Linked DNA regions of Homo sapiens: region 2 is linked to region 1. Evidence: fine-mapped expression QTL. A gene starts in region 1. The other region holds a variant in brackets. All regions are shown on one strand. Distances are from middle to middle. Region 1 holds the start of RB1CC1 (RB1 inducible coiled-coil 1). Region 2 has its middle 44 kb from the start of ALKAL1.

The links. PIP is the estimated chance that this variant, and not a neighbour inherited with it, causes the effect.
Region 2: its variant is the best candidate, but not a certain one, in a credible set for the expression of RB1CC1 in whole blood (INTERVAL, PIP 0.80).

Annotation. Positions count from the first base shown.
Region 1 is chr8:52,709,362-52,717,704 of GRCh38, reverse strand. RB1CC1 (RB1 inducible coiled-coil 1) reads left to right here and starts at 3,270. Exons shown (of 24, transcript NM_014781.5): 1 at 3,270-3,630. RefSeq lists enhancers at 2,706-2,755, 2,776-3,085 and silencers at 3,146-3,315, 3,346-3,815.
Region 2 is chr8:52,605,368-52,613,710 of GRCh38, reverse strand. No RefSeq gene overlaps it. Among named protein-coding and RNA genes, the nearest start is that of ALKAL1, 44 kb to the right of the region's middle. The variant C/A (reference allele first, on the strand shown) is at 3,742.

The DNA.
Region 1 (8,343 bases):
TATAAATTGAGGGCCTGAACAAGTTGTGGGGTACTGTCAAATGTTTGTTGAGTGCATACCATTATATACCAGGTACAGTACATCTTTTAAAAAGGAGCTTATAGTCAGCATGTTAGATGACACTGAAAGATACAATGTGAGAATCTAAAGAAATTACAAGCATGTGGCCAGGTGCTGTGGCTCACTCCTGTAATCCCAGCACTGTGGGGGAGGCTGAAGCGGGTGGATCACTTGAGATCAGGAGTTCGAGACCAGCCTGGCCAACACGGTGAAACCCCATCTAATAAAAGTATGAAAAGTAGCCGGGAGTGGTGGCAAGTGCCTGTAATCCCAGTTACTAGGGAGGCTGAGACAAGAGAATCGTTTGAACCTGGGAGGTAGAGGCTGCGGTGAGCAGAGATGGTGTCACTGCACTCCAGCTTGGGCAACAGAGTGAGACTCTGTCTCAAAACAAACAAACAAACAAACAAACAAACAAACAAGCATGGTAGGGAATGACTCCCAGAGTAGGTGATATTGAAGTTGAGAACTGAAGGAAAAATAGGATTTTAAAGATCTGAACTGATTTGAAGTACTTAGGGTATTTATTGTACATCCTATATAATCCCTCCATACTCCTAAAGAAAACTGTTTTCTTTTGCCCTCACTGTAAATCTACTGAAGCATCTAAAATAGTTATTAAATTTAAAAAAACAATAATGTGATGAGGCCAGAATTAGGTTTCTCTCTTCTGTTCTCTCCCACGGCACATTACCTTTGCATCATTCGCACACTATTATAATTATCTGAAAATTTGGAAGAGGTCCAAAGAATGGACAGATATTTAGGAGCGCCAGGAAGGAAACAGCACAAAAGGGAAGGAGGAGTATAAAAGTTAAATAATTTAAAATGGCGAATGCTTTAGAAAGTTCAAGTAAAATCTTAGTACTGTAATTTACTGTAATTTGGAGGTCCTTGTTAATGATCTGTTTGCAAGTTAAGTAAGAAATGCACAGTAGGCCAAAAATGAGATTGGACTGAGGACTTCCTATCAGAAAGCTTGGTTGAGAAGTGATGCTACAGAATTTTGTTTGTTCTTTTTTTTGTTTTATTAAGGAAGGGAGAATAGAGGGTGTCCAATAGGCAACAAAAGTAACTTTTCAAGACCTACTACCATGGATACATGTATTAGTAACTTATAAACAGTATTTCCTCTAGATATTTGCATATATATAATAGAATTAATGTTAGTACATTTTCACTTATCCCTAGGAAAGAATTACTGATGTTTGTTAAGAGTCTGTTAAGAATATACAAACTCTTAACATTTACACTGGAGGTGTATAAGGTATGAACCAGTCGTTTCTGGTAATTTATTGCAACCTGTGATTAAGAGAGAAGGTTAGGACTGAATTAATTCATTTTCCAAAGAAAAAAGTCAGACAACATTTATAATTTACCAGATTATCACTGGCATAGTTCAGAAATTTTTTTTTATTTTTCAGACAGGGCAACAATCTGTTGTCCAGGCTAGGAGTGCAGTGGTGCCATGATGGTTCACTGCAGCCTCGACCTCCTGGGCTCAACTGATTCTCCCACCTCAGCCTTCTGAGTAACTGGGACCACAGGTGTGCATCACCACGCCCAGCTAATTTTTGTATTTTTTGTAGAGAAGGGGTTTCACTACGTTGCCCAGGCTGGTCTCCAACTCCTGGGCTCAAGCAATCCTCCTGCCTCGGCCTCCCATAAGTGCTGGGATTCCAGGTGTGAGCCACTGCACCGAGCTCCAGCAAGATTTTTACATTCTAAATTGGGTTATATTTGTAATAATGAATGTCACTAATAAGAGGAAGTGCAAGTACCAATACGTTCTTTACAGGCCTCATACTGCAGTTTTTCTTTTCTTTCTTTTTCTTTTCATTCTTGGTCATACTGCCATTTTTCTTAGCCAATTTTCTGGCCAAACTCCTCCTCACCACTTATTTTCTGTGTGCTGATGACTATGCTTTACTACTAAATTTGGCTCTTTTGTCTTGCCAGTTCACACCTTCCCTTAAGGCATAATAACCATTTACTACTTAATTTTCGCTTTTCTCCTCTATCTTGCTGGGGTGGTGTAATAAAATTCCAGCTTAACCAATAAGTAAAATGGCTTGCCAGTGATGATAAAGACCACATTTGTTTGGGATATGTAGCAGCACAAATTTAAAAGTAAATAAATAAAACAAGCCCATCTCAATCCTAACTTACAGATACTGGTCAGTGTGACTGAAAACTGAAATTGTTCATGCTAACCAACGTTTTTCAGTTTCCACCTAACATTTTGTTCAGTTTGGTGCCCTCTTGTGCCTCCTATTTTTACAAACACAACTCAGAATTCCTGATGACTTTAGAGAAGGCACCTCCAAGTTTTCACTCATACCAGATATTCCTGGATATAACAGGAATTTGAGAACTATTATGTAATTATTCTACGTGTAACATCTGCTCATCAGATTTTAATATTCAAGCCTCGTGGCTTCAAGTCATTGCCTGTGACTGATCATCTTCACAAATGCAAGAGTCCCCTGAAACTGTCTCCCAACCATTAGGGTGCTCATGCTAACCCCTAACCCACTAGACCCACTACAAGATTCAGTATTTGTAAAGCTGAAAACGTGGTTGTGGCGTTTACATTTTCATTCCGATTGGCCTAGGCTTCCCTCTCTTCTCTCTTGCATGTTTTCTTGCCTTACCTGGTCTGAGAAATGGTGCCGCCCCACCCTTGCAGAGTTAACAGGGGGACGCTTGCCAGCTGCGTGCAGTCCCGGCGGTCCGGATATGCGGGGAGGTGGCGGCAGGAACGCCTGGGCCAGGCGCTGGTACGTTATCCTGTTACAGACCTTGGCCTAGTCCGCAGGTTGCCCCTGGAGAGGCGACGGGGACACCAGACCCTCGATTGGCTCCGCTCCTCCGCGACAGGCTGAGGGGAACAAGCTCTCTTTCGCCTGGGGACGATCCAGTGTTTGGTGGGTCGACCTTAGTCAGGGCCTAGCTGTCGCAAAGAAGGTCAAATTCACCTTGGGAAAGTACGCACCGGGACGGCAGCTAGCACCATAACAGGCGGCCCCAGCGGAGTCTCCCAGGGTCAGGCCAGGACAGCCAACCTGCCGGCCGGAGAGCCGGAGGCGGGGCCGCCCCCTTCCCGGCAGGCTGCCGACTTCCGGACCTGCGTAGACGCCTCTCTGCGCCTCCAGGCGCGCCCCTCCCCCGGCAGGCCGTTTCCCGGCATGCGCCGCGGAGGAAGAGACGGAGTCGACAATAACAAACCAAGCCGCGGCGGTGTCCGCGGCCCTGCCGAGCCCTCGGCGTTGCCTCAGAATCCCCCAGTCGCCTGGGCCCCTCGGCTCTGACAGGCCGCGGCCTTCTGTCCCCCGGCCCCAGACCCAGAGCCGAGGGGCCTGCTCGCGTCCTTGTCCGCCCGGACCCCTCCCTGCCTCCTAGAGTTCGGGGCCGCGGCGGGCGGGCGCCCGGGACGCCGGCGGTTGTGTCGGCTTAGCGGTGCCGAATGGGCGGTTGGTAACCGCTGCCGAGGACTAGGCGGCGGCGGAAGATGGTGCCGGGGGTCGCTGGCTCTGCTGCTGCCGCCGGCGAAGGAGGAGGCGTTGCCGGGTAAGTGTCGCCGCCGCCCGCGTCCCCTTCCCCCATCTGGCACAGCGGTCGCGCGGCGGGCCCTGGCACGGTGGGCCGGGGTCGCATGGTCCAGGGTTCCGGTCGGCCTGAGCCCGGCCCACGCGCAGGTGTGTGCACGGGAGGGCCCCGGCGCCTCCCGCCCCGGCAGGTGTTGCCCACTGGCCGCTTTCCCGGCGCGACAGCCCCTGTGGAGACAAAAGCGGTTCGAGTCGATGCTCCACTAGGCTGCCGGAGGTGTGGGTCGGACTCGTGCTGCGGGGCTGCCTGCGGCTTCCTCGGCCGGAGCCTTGGGATCCCTCCCTCTGCGCTGCCGCTTAGTACCCGGCCTAGTTGCCGGAGTGGCCGAGGGCGAGGGACGTCCGAACCTCCCAAGACGCATCTTGACTTGTGCTCATCGCTGCCAGGGATCAGCCCTTAATTCTGTGTTGGACTCGAGAAACGGGAGAGTGGAGTTTGGCCGAGGCCGAACGAAGCTCACCGAATGGGAGGAACGGAGAGATGATGTCTTTGTCCCGACCCCAGAGTGCGAGGATCGGTATAAAGTTACTCCTAGGAATGACTCAGCCTGCGCCCGCCCCACGGATAGATTTGGGATGGGTGTGCACGCGGATTTCACAGCTTCCTTGGTAGAAACAAAAATACATTAACCAACAGTAGAAATAGCAGCTTCTGAATGGAATATCTCTATAGTTTCTTCCACCGCCTGGTGGATGTGCTGTGTTTACTGTTTATGGTTTCGTAATCTAGTCGTTTCCATCATGACTCTTTAAAGTGTGGTCATACCTTGAAGTAGTGTAGACTTGGCTGCCAAGGAAGACTCATGTGCTCACTGTTGATAAAGAGTCACGTTACTACGAGACATTCAGCCAGATGGGAATGTTCTCAAGTCTGCTGCAAACATTTAAAGTGTACCTATTTGCTAACTATTTTATTGTGTAGTTTCTTAAGTTTTTGTGTTTTGGTGAAGCTTGTATGATTTATACATAAGTTTGGACAGTTAGCAATTTAGGAAGAGACTTAAGTAGACTTAATTGTGTGTTTAATCAAGAATGTTATTACATTGTGATAGACGATAAAAAGAGGGTCCTTCCACTTCTGATCAGATAAAACTGTGAGAAACCAAGGAACTACTGAGGGAGGTGGCTGATTTTAGTTTTTGGATTATTGGATTTATAAGCAGACCATTGCTAGGAATGTGAAAATATGTTCGCTTTTTATATTTGTTGTAACAGAATATGGCCCTAATGAAGATATTTTCTCAATAACATTCCTGTCATGTCTTTTAATGTTTGTGATTGTGTTCAAAACCTGGATAAAGTTTTATGTCAGGGATGCTTTAGGCACATAATGCTTACGTTGAGAAACCTCTGTTGATGGAAAGTGGATATTGACATAGTTCATATTTTTAAAGTAATTTTATTTAGTCTATTTTGAACTTTTTATGGTAATCAAGATATGATTATTTATGTACCTAATCCTTTATATGTTTGTTATTGGACGACAGGGAAGACAATGAAGCGGTACTTTTGTCCCTGAGTTTTTTTTTTTTTTTTTTTTGGCTCTTGCTGCCAAACACAAGATCAGGATGCATGGCAGATTTACTTTAGCAAATCAAGTTCATAAAGGCAGAAGACACAAGACTTTTGTTTTCGAAATTTTGAACCTAAATTTTGATTATGTTAGCCTGAGAAAAGTTTTTAGACTCTAATATTAACTTAAAATTTTATATCATACATTCAGCAGATATTTGAGCACCTACATGCTTTACTTTGCAGATGTGTATGTCTTATGAATATCTTTTTAAAAGAATGGCTGATAAAATTTTCTCATTCAGGTAATGATATTTTCTGACTCCAGTTACACTTTTCTTTTGTAGTAATACTGGCCTAAGACACTTTGAAAATCTAGCAGTCCCTTTCAACACACTTTCACGATTCTTTTATTATCTTTTTACCACTGTGAGGTTTTTGAACTAGTTACATGAGGAACATAAAAATGTTTAAGTAATTGTTCTTGAGTAGAGACGGGGTTTTACCATGTTGGCCAGGCTGGTCTTGAACTCCTGACCTCAGGTGATCTGCCTGCCTCGGACTCCCAAAGCCCGGCCACTGATTGCCTTTTGAATAAAGGCCCAAGAGAAGTAAGGGGTGTAAGTGTGTGACTCTCGAAAGGAATTTTTGGCAGAAGAAACAGTAAATGGAAAGGCTCTGATATACATGGCATATACCAAGAAAAATGAAGTTACTGAAGCTGGACTGGTATGAGAGAGGCGATAGTAATGGTAGATTGTGGGGCTCTACATATTCAGGTTTGGAAGTCATAGTAAGGAAACTAATGTGCTCTAACTCACAAAGGTCTACAGATGAATTCAAGTAAACCCAGCATGGCTGGAAAGCAGTTGAAGCCAAATTCACTTCATTTATTCCTGAAATGCTAATTGAACCCCTGCAGCATACTCTTTTAGCTTCAGCAATGCAACAGTGAACAAGAAAGACATATCTGTCTATGTATATATATTTATTTATAGGAAATGGGTAACCACTGGAAATTTTCATGGAGGTAAATGACAAACGCAGATTACTTTGAGGATGTAGAGTAGATAAAAGGCTAGCTAAGCCGATTGTATAGTGCTAGGTTGATGAGTTTTTGCTTAACTCACATAGATAAAAGGATGTGAAGATTACTTGTCTCTGATTATTTATTATGGACCAAATCAACTTAATTTGACTGTAAACTGTACCCCCATTGTTTAGGGTCCTGAGAGGATGGCATTTCTTTCTATCCCTTTGTAAAGTTCCGGTTCTGTTGGATTACTTTTTGTAAGTGCAGTACTTGAATGCCTCCAAGTACCCTCTTTCCTTGGCTAATTTGTTTCTGCTTTCATGGCTGTTTAGTGAGTGCTTTGAGGATTGTGGAATAACAATCCTCGCCCATTTTTTTTCATCCATGATTTTTTTCTACCCGTTAGTTTGCTCTTTTGAACTCTCATATTTTATTGGCTTGTAATTGTGCTAGGAGATAAAAATAATTGTGTTCCATTTCCTTTTTTTGTCACTGATTTGAGACTGTCCACTCATTTTTCCTTCACATTCCACACATTATACTTGTTCAGTAACTGTCCAGCATACCTGTTGAAATATTAATTCAATACCATATTATATTACAGTAATATAACGGCTTTTAGTAATTGTTTTACTGCAAATACCAGATTTGGGCAGGCTGGTTTAATAATTTGGTTATATGTTTATAGATAATCTTGGTTTAATAGAATGCAGCTAATTCTACATTTTCTTTTTTTTCCCCATTTTCCCTGTCTTATATAATTCTATATTTGCTATATAGATAATTTTGGTTTTACTGTTAGTTTCCGTTATAAAATAAAACACAACTAGAAAATTTTCACTAAAATCATGCATTTTATGTAGTTTTTATAAACGATAGGGACACCAAAATGTGTAATGCATTTATATGTACTGATACAGAAAGATTTCTGTTATTTTATGCAGTTCAAGCAAAGTCCATAGTAGTATGTAGGGTGTCACCTCATTTTTATAAAACCATATTGCCTGAATATACACATATTTCCTGTACACCTAGGGAAAAAAACCTGAAGGGTGTACTCCAAAGTATTTTTCATTTTTGTTTTAAAAGTATTCCTGTTCTGCTATTTTTACCTCATTTGCTGTCTTTGGGCACTACCTTTCTAAATGCTCGCTTCATTCTTTTGGCGAAGTTGCTTGTCTAGTTTGTAGACAAGGCGTATATTTAGGAAGTCTGAACTTTTATGAAAAAGGTTTTCTTTCAGGGAAATGTGAGGAAAATGCCTGACCTACTCATCTTTCATTCTTTTTCTTGGCAGAGAAGGGGTAGGATCAGATTAGAATACATCTGATTTGGGGAGACTGATGCCCAGTTTTCAGTCCCTGGGCAACCTAGACACTCCGTTTGTGGTGGACATTATCTCCATTGATGCAGTAGCCCGTGACCCCTCAATGAGGGAGAATTGCTAATAATTGCAGTTTACAGAATTAGAGATCAGGCAAAATTATTTCCAATCATCTTTTCTCTGAAGCTTTTAGTCCACTTTAGGGTTATCTGAGTCTCATGTGTTCTATTCAGCTGGAAAGCATCTTGAAGATATTTGTATTCCAGGCACCTAGCAGTGTCTGGCTTATGTTTAGATGCCCCCAAAATAGTGGATGAATAATGAATGTGTCCAGTTTTGAAGGTCAGAGATTGTCATTGGGGTGTCCCCCTTTCACCTTATCATATAAGGAAGCGAATTCTGTTTTGTTTGTTTGTTTTTGTTTTTTAAGGCAGAGTCTTACTTTGTCGCCCAGGCAGGCGACAGGCAATGGTGTGATCTAGGCTCACTACAACCACTGCCTCGTGGGCTCAGATGATCCTCCCACTTCAGCCTCCCAGTAGGTGGGATTACAGGCATGCACTACCACTGCCAACTAATTCTTGTATTCTTAGTAGAGACGGGGTTTCACCATGTTTCCCAGGCTGGTCTTGAACTCCTGGCCTGAAGTGAGCCACCCACCTCGGCCTCCCAAAGTGCTGGGATTACAGGCAGGAGCCACTGTGTCTGGCCTAATTCTAAGTTTTGACTGTATTAGAATAGTTGACAGTAAGGCTGGGATAATTGACTTTATCATCATGATAATCTCTCGAGAAAATTGTAAATCT
Region 2 (8,343 bases), 100 kb after region 1:
TACTTTCTGCTCATTAAAACTTCAGTACTGCACCTCGCCCAAGCTTATCAGTAGGTCCATATCATCGGTGTCAGTAGTTGAACCTCAAAAATGCTTGAGTCGAACATAGCCGTCATTATTTATTTGGTAAATATTTTAAGCTTAGACATCTCCAGAACCACTTTCCTCCAGAAAATTCCAGTGTTTTATGCAGCTCTTGCTGCCTAGAATTGTAGGTATGATACAATGTCACATTCTGACAAGGTGCAGAACACTTTTGGTTTATAGACCTGGGTTGAAACCCCGATTCTAAAGGAAATTACTGGTTAGCCTATGCAACTTAGTTTTTTAGCTTTAATTTCCCTATCTATAAGAAATAATCTTCACAACTTACTGTGATGTTCACAATGAGAGGAAGTTAAGTAAAAGTATTTTTGCATATTGAAAAGTGCTGTAGAAATATTTATATATTCCTAGAAAGATTTCAAAAAGCTTCCACATACTTTCAAAACACTGATGAGAAGTTGCAGGGTGCCTTCCTAGGCTTCGATGTCAATACTGCTGTTATCTTTCTTTACAAAAAAAAAAAAGGCGTGTAAGCTCTCCACCCTATCTCACCCCATCCCCAAATCCCATAAAAAGTTGCTCAGACATGGCAGAAGACACCTGTGTATTTAAGAAAGCACTAAAATGCATTTCTACTCTCTTCCCTCTGTTTTTCTTTGGGATAAAGGTTGTATTTATCTTTTAAAAATGAAAAGTGGGCCAGATGTGGTGGCTCGCGCCTGCAGTCCCAGCACTTTGGGAGGCTGAGGGAGGAGGATTGCTTGAGCCCAGGAGTGTGAGACCAGCCTGGGCAAAATAAACACCATGTCTACCAAAAACAAAAAATTAGACAGGCATGGTGGCATGTGCCTGTGATCCCAAGCTACTCAGTAGGCTGAGGTGGGAGGATCACTTGAGGTGGGAAAATTGCTCAAGCCAAGGAGGTGGAGGCCGCAGTGAGCCGTGAGCGATCACACCACTGCACTCCATCCTTGGCTACAGAATGAGATCGTGTCTCAAAACAAAACAAAAACAACAAATAAAAGCTTTTACAAATAAAATATTTAACTTTTCATCCTAAAATTAATGGTGGTTTAGGCTGGGCGTGGTGGCTAATGCCCATAATCCCAGGACTTTGGAATGCCGAGGCAGGCAGATCACCTGAGGTCAGGAGTTCAAGACCAGCCTGACCAACATGGTGAAACCCCATCTCTACTAAAAATATAAAAATTAGCTCGATATGGTGCTGCATGCCTGTAATCCCAGCTACTTGGGAGGCTGAGGCAGGAGAATTGCTCGAACTTGGGAGGTGGAGGCTGCAGTGAGCTGAGATCATGCCACTGCACTCCAGCCTGGGTGACAGAGCAAGACTCCATCTCAAAAAAGTAAAATTAAATTAATGGTGGTTAGCAACATCTAAAGATTATTTAGTATCCACATTTTGTGTTTGAAAATAATTTTAACAAATATATTTTCAAATACTTTAATCTTTGTTTTAATTTAAATCATTCATTCCAGGCGCAGTGGCTCACGTCTATAATCCCAGCACTTTGGGAGGTGGAGGCAGGCAAATCACTTGAAGTCAGGAGTTCAAGACCAGCCTGGCCAACATGGTGAAACCCCATCTCTACTAAAAATACAAAAATTATCTGGGCATGGTCGTGGGCACCTGTAATCCCAGCTACTTGGGAGGCTAAGGCAGGAAAATTGCTTGTACCCAGGAGGCAGAGGCTGCAGTGAGCTGAGATTGCGCCACTGCACTCCAGCCTGGGTGACAGAGGGAGACTCCATCTCAAAAATAAATAAATTAATTTTAAAAATAATAATTTAAATCATTCACTGGGAACAATCTTTTTTATTTTCACAGTTCAATTTTGCTTTTTTCTAAAACTAGTTGTTAAGGAAAACACAACATATATGAAATATAGAGGTTTTTCTCCCCCATAGGAATTAAAGATTTTACAGAACTAACCTTAAAGCACACACTTATCTTTTTCTTTCCAAATGAGAGAAGTTCTTTAAACTGTGAGGATTACTTCTTAAAATTTAAATGAGCCCTTTTTGGATTGTTACAGAAGTGCCTCATAAACCTCATAAACATTTCTTTTCTTTTTTCTTTTTTTTTTCGTTGAGATGGAGTTTTGCTCTTGTTGCCCAGGCTAGAGTGCAGTGGTGCGATCTCAGCTCACCACAACCTCTGCCTCCCAGGTTAAAGCGATTCTCCTGCCTCAGCCTCCCCAGTAGCTGGGATTACAGGCGTGCACCATTATGCCCGGCTAATTTTGTATTTTTAGTAGAGATAGGGTTTCTCCATGTTGGTCAGGCTGGTCTCCGACTCCCAACCTCAGGTGATCTGCCTGCCTAGGCCTCCCAAAGTGCTGGGATTACAGGCGTGAGCCACCGTGCCCAGCAACATTTCTTGAGGTAGTTTACATGCTTCAAAAATAACTGAACTGAGAAAGTGATTAGCTTTGTCACTTCTTCCACATCTATCTCCTTTAGCTGTATTTGGCTTATCTTAAAAACTAAGATCTTCACAGAAAGATCTCAGGCAAAACTGAGGTTCCTTTTTGGTCTTTACTTTGCGTATGTCATGGATGCAACAAACCGTAGACTTTCCACAGTGATAATTAGCCCAAATTGGCTTCTAATGAACAATGCCCAGTTACTTTCAGTTTATCCTAGCAGAACCTTCTTTGCCTAAACTATTGACATAGATGTCATTTACTCAGCTGCTCTCTATCAGTGTTTGTTAGGTGGAACCTTATAAGGTCTCATCTAACATTTCAAGGAAGCAAGAGTGAGTCTAGGGAAAAGAGAAATCCATAATTTTACAATTAAAGCTGCACTTGTTGCTTAATGTATTTGTCCTTATGGGAGCCAGGTGTATTCTGAGATGGACATTAGAACTTTTCAGAAGACATTAAGAGTTCAGTGACCAAGTACTTGTAGAGAATTGAATTAGGTATATTAGTTACACCAGATGCATCAGGGAAACTGATTAATAATTAAATCAGGAGAGTTCTTTTTTTTTTTTTTTTCTTTTTTCTTGAAACAGTCTTGCTCTGTCACCCGGGCTGGAATGCAGTGGCACAATCTTGGCTCACTGCAACCTCCACCTCCTGGGTTCAAGTGATTCTCCTGCCTCAGTCTCCCGAGTAGCTGGGACTGCAGGCGCACACCACCACACCTGGCTAATTTTTTGTATTTTTAGTAGAGATGGGGTTTCACCATGTTAGCCAGGATGGTCTCGATCTCCTGACCTCGTTATCTGCCCACCTCGGCCTCCCAAAGTGCTGGGATTACAGGCGTGAGCCACCACGCCTGGCCAGGAGAGTTCTTTTTATTTGTCAGTTTATAAAGAATATATGGAATCAGTTCATAAAAAATCACAGCCAAAGTGTATATAAATATTTCTTCTTGTAGCTCATGTTTTCATTCACAAGCAGGAGCCAAAAATGTACTCTCCTAATTAAAAGATAATTTTAAATATTGTCATTGCAATAGAGATTGCATAACTATAATTGAATGCTAACATTAAAGTGATGTAATTTTTTCTTTATGCATTAAAAAATAGGAAAAGTTAAAGTTCTAGATTATAGCAGTATCTGATATTTCTCTCAGATCTCAAAACATTTGTAGGATATTTCTAGATGTTCGTATATACTGTCATGAATATAGAAAATGAATTTGAACTGTGAAAATGCAAAATAAAGT[C/A]TTCTTAGTACTTGTATAATTTCGCTTCCCTTTCTGTGTATTGGATTAAGCAACATATTAAATTTTATATTATTAAACTGTATAAGAAAAATACAACAGAATTGATGGAAAAAAATTCTAGGGTTGCCACTGTCAGTGCATGTTCTGGAGCTCACTGCTATCTTTTTCCTTATAAAGAGATGGAAAGTAAGTCAGGGAAAAGAATCAAAAGAACTCTATCAAGACAAAACAATTCATGTCGCAATCTAAAAATAGCATTTTGGGAAACTACTATCCAGTACTTTAAATCCATCCTCATTTGTGCTCACAAAGTAAAGTGGAAAACAGAGTACAGAAATAGACCCACATATATATGGTCTCCTGATTTATTACCAAGGCACCAGTGCAATTCAGTAGGAAAAGAAAAGTGTTCTTGATAAAAGGTGCTAGGTGAAAAATAAATGAACCTTCTCCTTGACTGCATGCTATCCGCAAAGTTTATTTAAGACACAAAAATTTATTTGGAATGGATCACAGAACTAAATGGGAAAGATACAACAATAAAACTTTTGGAAGAAAACATAGACAAATACCTTCTTTTCCCTGGGAAGAAAAAAATTCTTAAACAGGAAAATTTTAAAAATATAAAAGAAAATATTGATACATTGGACTAGATGAAAACTAAGAACTTCTGTTCATCAAAAGACCCCATTAAGAGAGTGAAAAGGCAAGTCCTAGACTCAAGACATATGCAATATATGGATCCAACAAAAGATTAGTATCCAGAACATATAAATAACTCCCATGAATCAATAAGAAAAAGACAAATAGGTGAATTTTAGAAATGGGCAAAACTGGGTGTTGAATGGATTCTTCATAAAAGAGGATACCAAATGACCAGTTATAATGACTATTTTTAATAAGTGCTCAACATCATTAGTCATCAGGACAATGCAAATAAAAACTGCAATGTGGTACCACTGCACACCCACTAGAATGCTTCAAATTCAAAAGACCAACAATAACAACTGTTGGCAAAGATTCTTGGGAGGCAGTTGGAATTCTCATATACTACAGATGGGAAGTAATTTGAAAAATGTGACAGTATGTTTCACAACTAAATGTAATCCTGCACTCTGACATGGCAATCTCACTTAAATATTTACCCAAAAGTAATGAGTACATATGTTCACCAAAAGCCATGTAAAATAATGTTTGTAGATAAAACCTGGAAACAACCCAAATGCTTTTCAATAAAAGAATGCATAAATCTATTGTGGTATACTCACACAGCAGAGTATTATGTAGCAGTTTAAAAGAATGAATTATTGCTGGGTGTGGTGGTGCATGCCTGTAGTCCCAGCTACTCAGGAGACTGAGGTGGGAAGATCCCTTAGGACCAGGAGTATGAGGCCAGTCTGGGCAACATAGCAACCCTGTCTTTAAGTGAATGAATGAACTGTTGGTACACATGACATGAAGTAATTTCACAGACATAATAATGAGTTAAAGATAACAGATACAAATGATTACATATTGAATTACTTCATTTATATGAAGTTCAAGTACAGACAAATGAACTGTGATGACATAAGTCCATTTTTTAGGAAGGGGCATGAGAGGGATTTTTTAGATGCCAGATATAATGTACATTTTCATCAGAGTAGGGTTAACTGTGCGTATTCACAGACTTCATATGTGTGTTCCACCTCATTCCTTTTTTAAAAAGAACTAAAATGGTTGATTTATATATTCTCACATATATATATGGGTCTCGATACATACATATATATGCATATATGTATGCTTTATATTTTCTTACATATACATATATGGGTCTCAATACATACATATATATGCATATATATATATATATATATATATATATATATATGTATGTATGTATATGCTTTATTTTCCCATAAGTGTCTATGGCTTCATTTATTTCTATCCATTCCATGCTTTCCCTTAAATGAAGTCTTAGCAAGCTCCTAAGTCCCTTTTGTTTCTGTTGACACTGTTCAGATTAGCATTGTTCAGAATTTTAGCTCCAAATTATCTTAACCACCTATTTCTTTCCTAGAATTTCAAAAATTGAGTTGAGTCAGTGACCGAGCAAGAGCACCATCATCTTGGACAAACACCATCACTTTAAGTTCCAGCTCCCTTTCTAGCATCATGTATTTTAAGGTAATCACTTCTCTTCTAACTACAAGCAGCCAGAAAGAGCAGGCAGTAAAACACAGATAAGACAGCTTGGGCACAGAGGGAGGTGAGGGTAAAGTCTTTTGGGTAACTGCCAAACTTCACCCTCATACAATGGGCCCCAGTAAAACAGTGGGCCTTAATAAGCACATTCCTTTCCCTTCAGGTGCACTGAAATAGGGAAGCTAAAAGCAGACTCAGGGGATATGCCTGCAGCTGCGGAAAGATGAATGGGAACAGACACACAACTCTCCCTCCCAGATAAGCACCACAAAGAGATACAGAAACAGTCCAAGTGTCTGATAAACTCTCTACCCTGAATCCTTAAAAACTCTCTGACCTAACTCTGCCAGACACCCCTCTCAGGTTTGTTTTCTCTAAAATAAGCCCATCTTGACTGGCAAGCCATCCTTTGTGTTTGTTTCCTCTTTCTTTAATTCTTATAGTCAGGACCTAGATTAACCATGTTTTTCAACCTGGAAATAAAATCAATCTCTCTCTCTCTCTCTCTCTCTCTCTCTCTCTCTCTCTCTCTATCTGTGCGTGTGTGTGTGTGTGTGTTTTATTTATAAGGACACTGAAGTGTAGAGAGGTTAATGAACTAGCCCAGGGTCAGGACCATGAACTTTATTAATTTTTCAGGAATTCAACTATTACAGACAAATAGAAATTACCTTGTCTCAAACTCCTACTCCTCACTTCCCATTTTTGACAACAAGCGGTATTATTCTCCCTTTAACCCAGATGTAAAATCTATTTTATTCACAACAGATTTACTTTTAAGTATCTACTATGAAAGGAAAGGGGTATAGAGTTGAGAGGCTGTAGCCCCAATCCTCTACCCCAGTTGATTTTGACTCTTCTCATTCCAAAGTGGCCACTACCTTCCCTTTAGTTTCCCAAAATCAAACGTGTTAAGCATCAGATTGGACCACTACTTTAAGGTATTTGCTAAACCTGAAGCTGCCTTAGAATTTTTTTTTTTTTTTTTTTTTTTTTACTTACTGTCTGACTTTGCATGTGTTTGTCTAGAATTCAGCATCCTGTCTTTATGCCTGTCGCATTAAGCTATGAGTCCAGGAAGGTAAGAGCAGCAGCTGGCAAAGGTGCCCAAAACAAGTGTATTTTATTTTGGAAACATTCTTTGTGTCTAGCCTAAATCTATCCTGATGCAGTTTCAGACAACAGAACCCTTTGTCTTTGTCTACTCACAGGATAAATATGGTAGAAAAGGGGAATTCAAAGAAAGGAAATGGGGAAAATATGACACTTTGCAAAGGTGACATTTTAAAAATATGTACATTGCTGCAATCATTAACAGCACCCCGAGAAAAGATTCAGTGCTCAGAACAAATGATCCACCCTTTTAAAAAATTAAATGATGTAGCTTATAGCCTAGGAGGTATTTGCATGAAAAAGAGAAAGGCAGTTTTATCTTTGTGGATGGTGAAAGGATGATAACAGGATGATTTATTTTGAGTTTTTAAAGCCAGCCCCTGCCAATCTGCCTGGTAGAACCCCTGAAGCATTATTCAGTGCACACCACCATCAGGGCATTCACTTCTTCCCGTGACAACAGGTCCGCAGCTGTCTCTGCCTAGGGGCTGAAACCATCATTTTAGACTGCAAGACCATTAAAAGAGGGGGGAAGCTGAGTCCACTGAATCCTTTTCATAAAGCATCAGAGGAATGAGACCAACTTAGCCAAATCAGCACACCTTATAAAATTAGTCAAGGGAGACAACTGCATTGCTTCTAAAAAAAAAAAAATCAATTTAGCTCCTCATCACATCAATACCCCAAAATAATATCCAGATGAACTGAAGCTACAAATTGCAGACAACATTAAAAAACAAGAATTCTAGGATTAAATACTGTAAATTAAAAACAGGTGGATATTTCCACACACAAATGAAAAATTCTCTTTAGTACATACCATAATGAAAATGAAATGCCCAACATTGCACAAAGAAATATTATTTCTACAAATATGAGAAAGGCTTACTATTTTATACAATTAAAAATAAACACAAATGAACAAGAAAATCACTACAATCAATAGATAAATAGGTCAAATTATCTCAAAAGATGCCACGAAATTTTGAGTTGGAACCTGTTTTCTTTAACTTTAGAAGAGAATGTATCAAAAGAGAAAGCAGAAACCAAAAATTGTGTTGCTCATTGGTCAAAATCACAGACTACTCTCAAAGTCACCTTAATAGTTTAATCCCACCTACTTCTGAGTGGCTTTTGTCTTCTGGGAAAAATTCAATTTTTTTTTTTTTTTTGAGACAGGGTCTTGCTTGGTTGCCCAGGCTGGAGTGCAGTGGTATGATATCGGCTCACTGCAACCTCTCCCTCCAGGGTTGAAGCGATTATCATGCCTCAACCTCCCAAATAGCTGGGATTACAGGCACC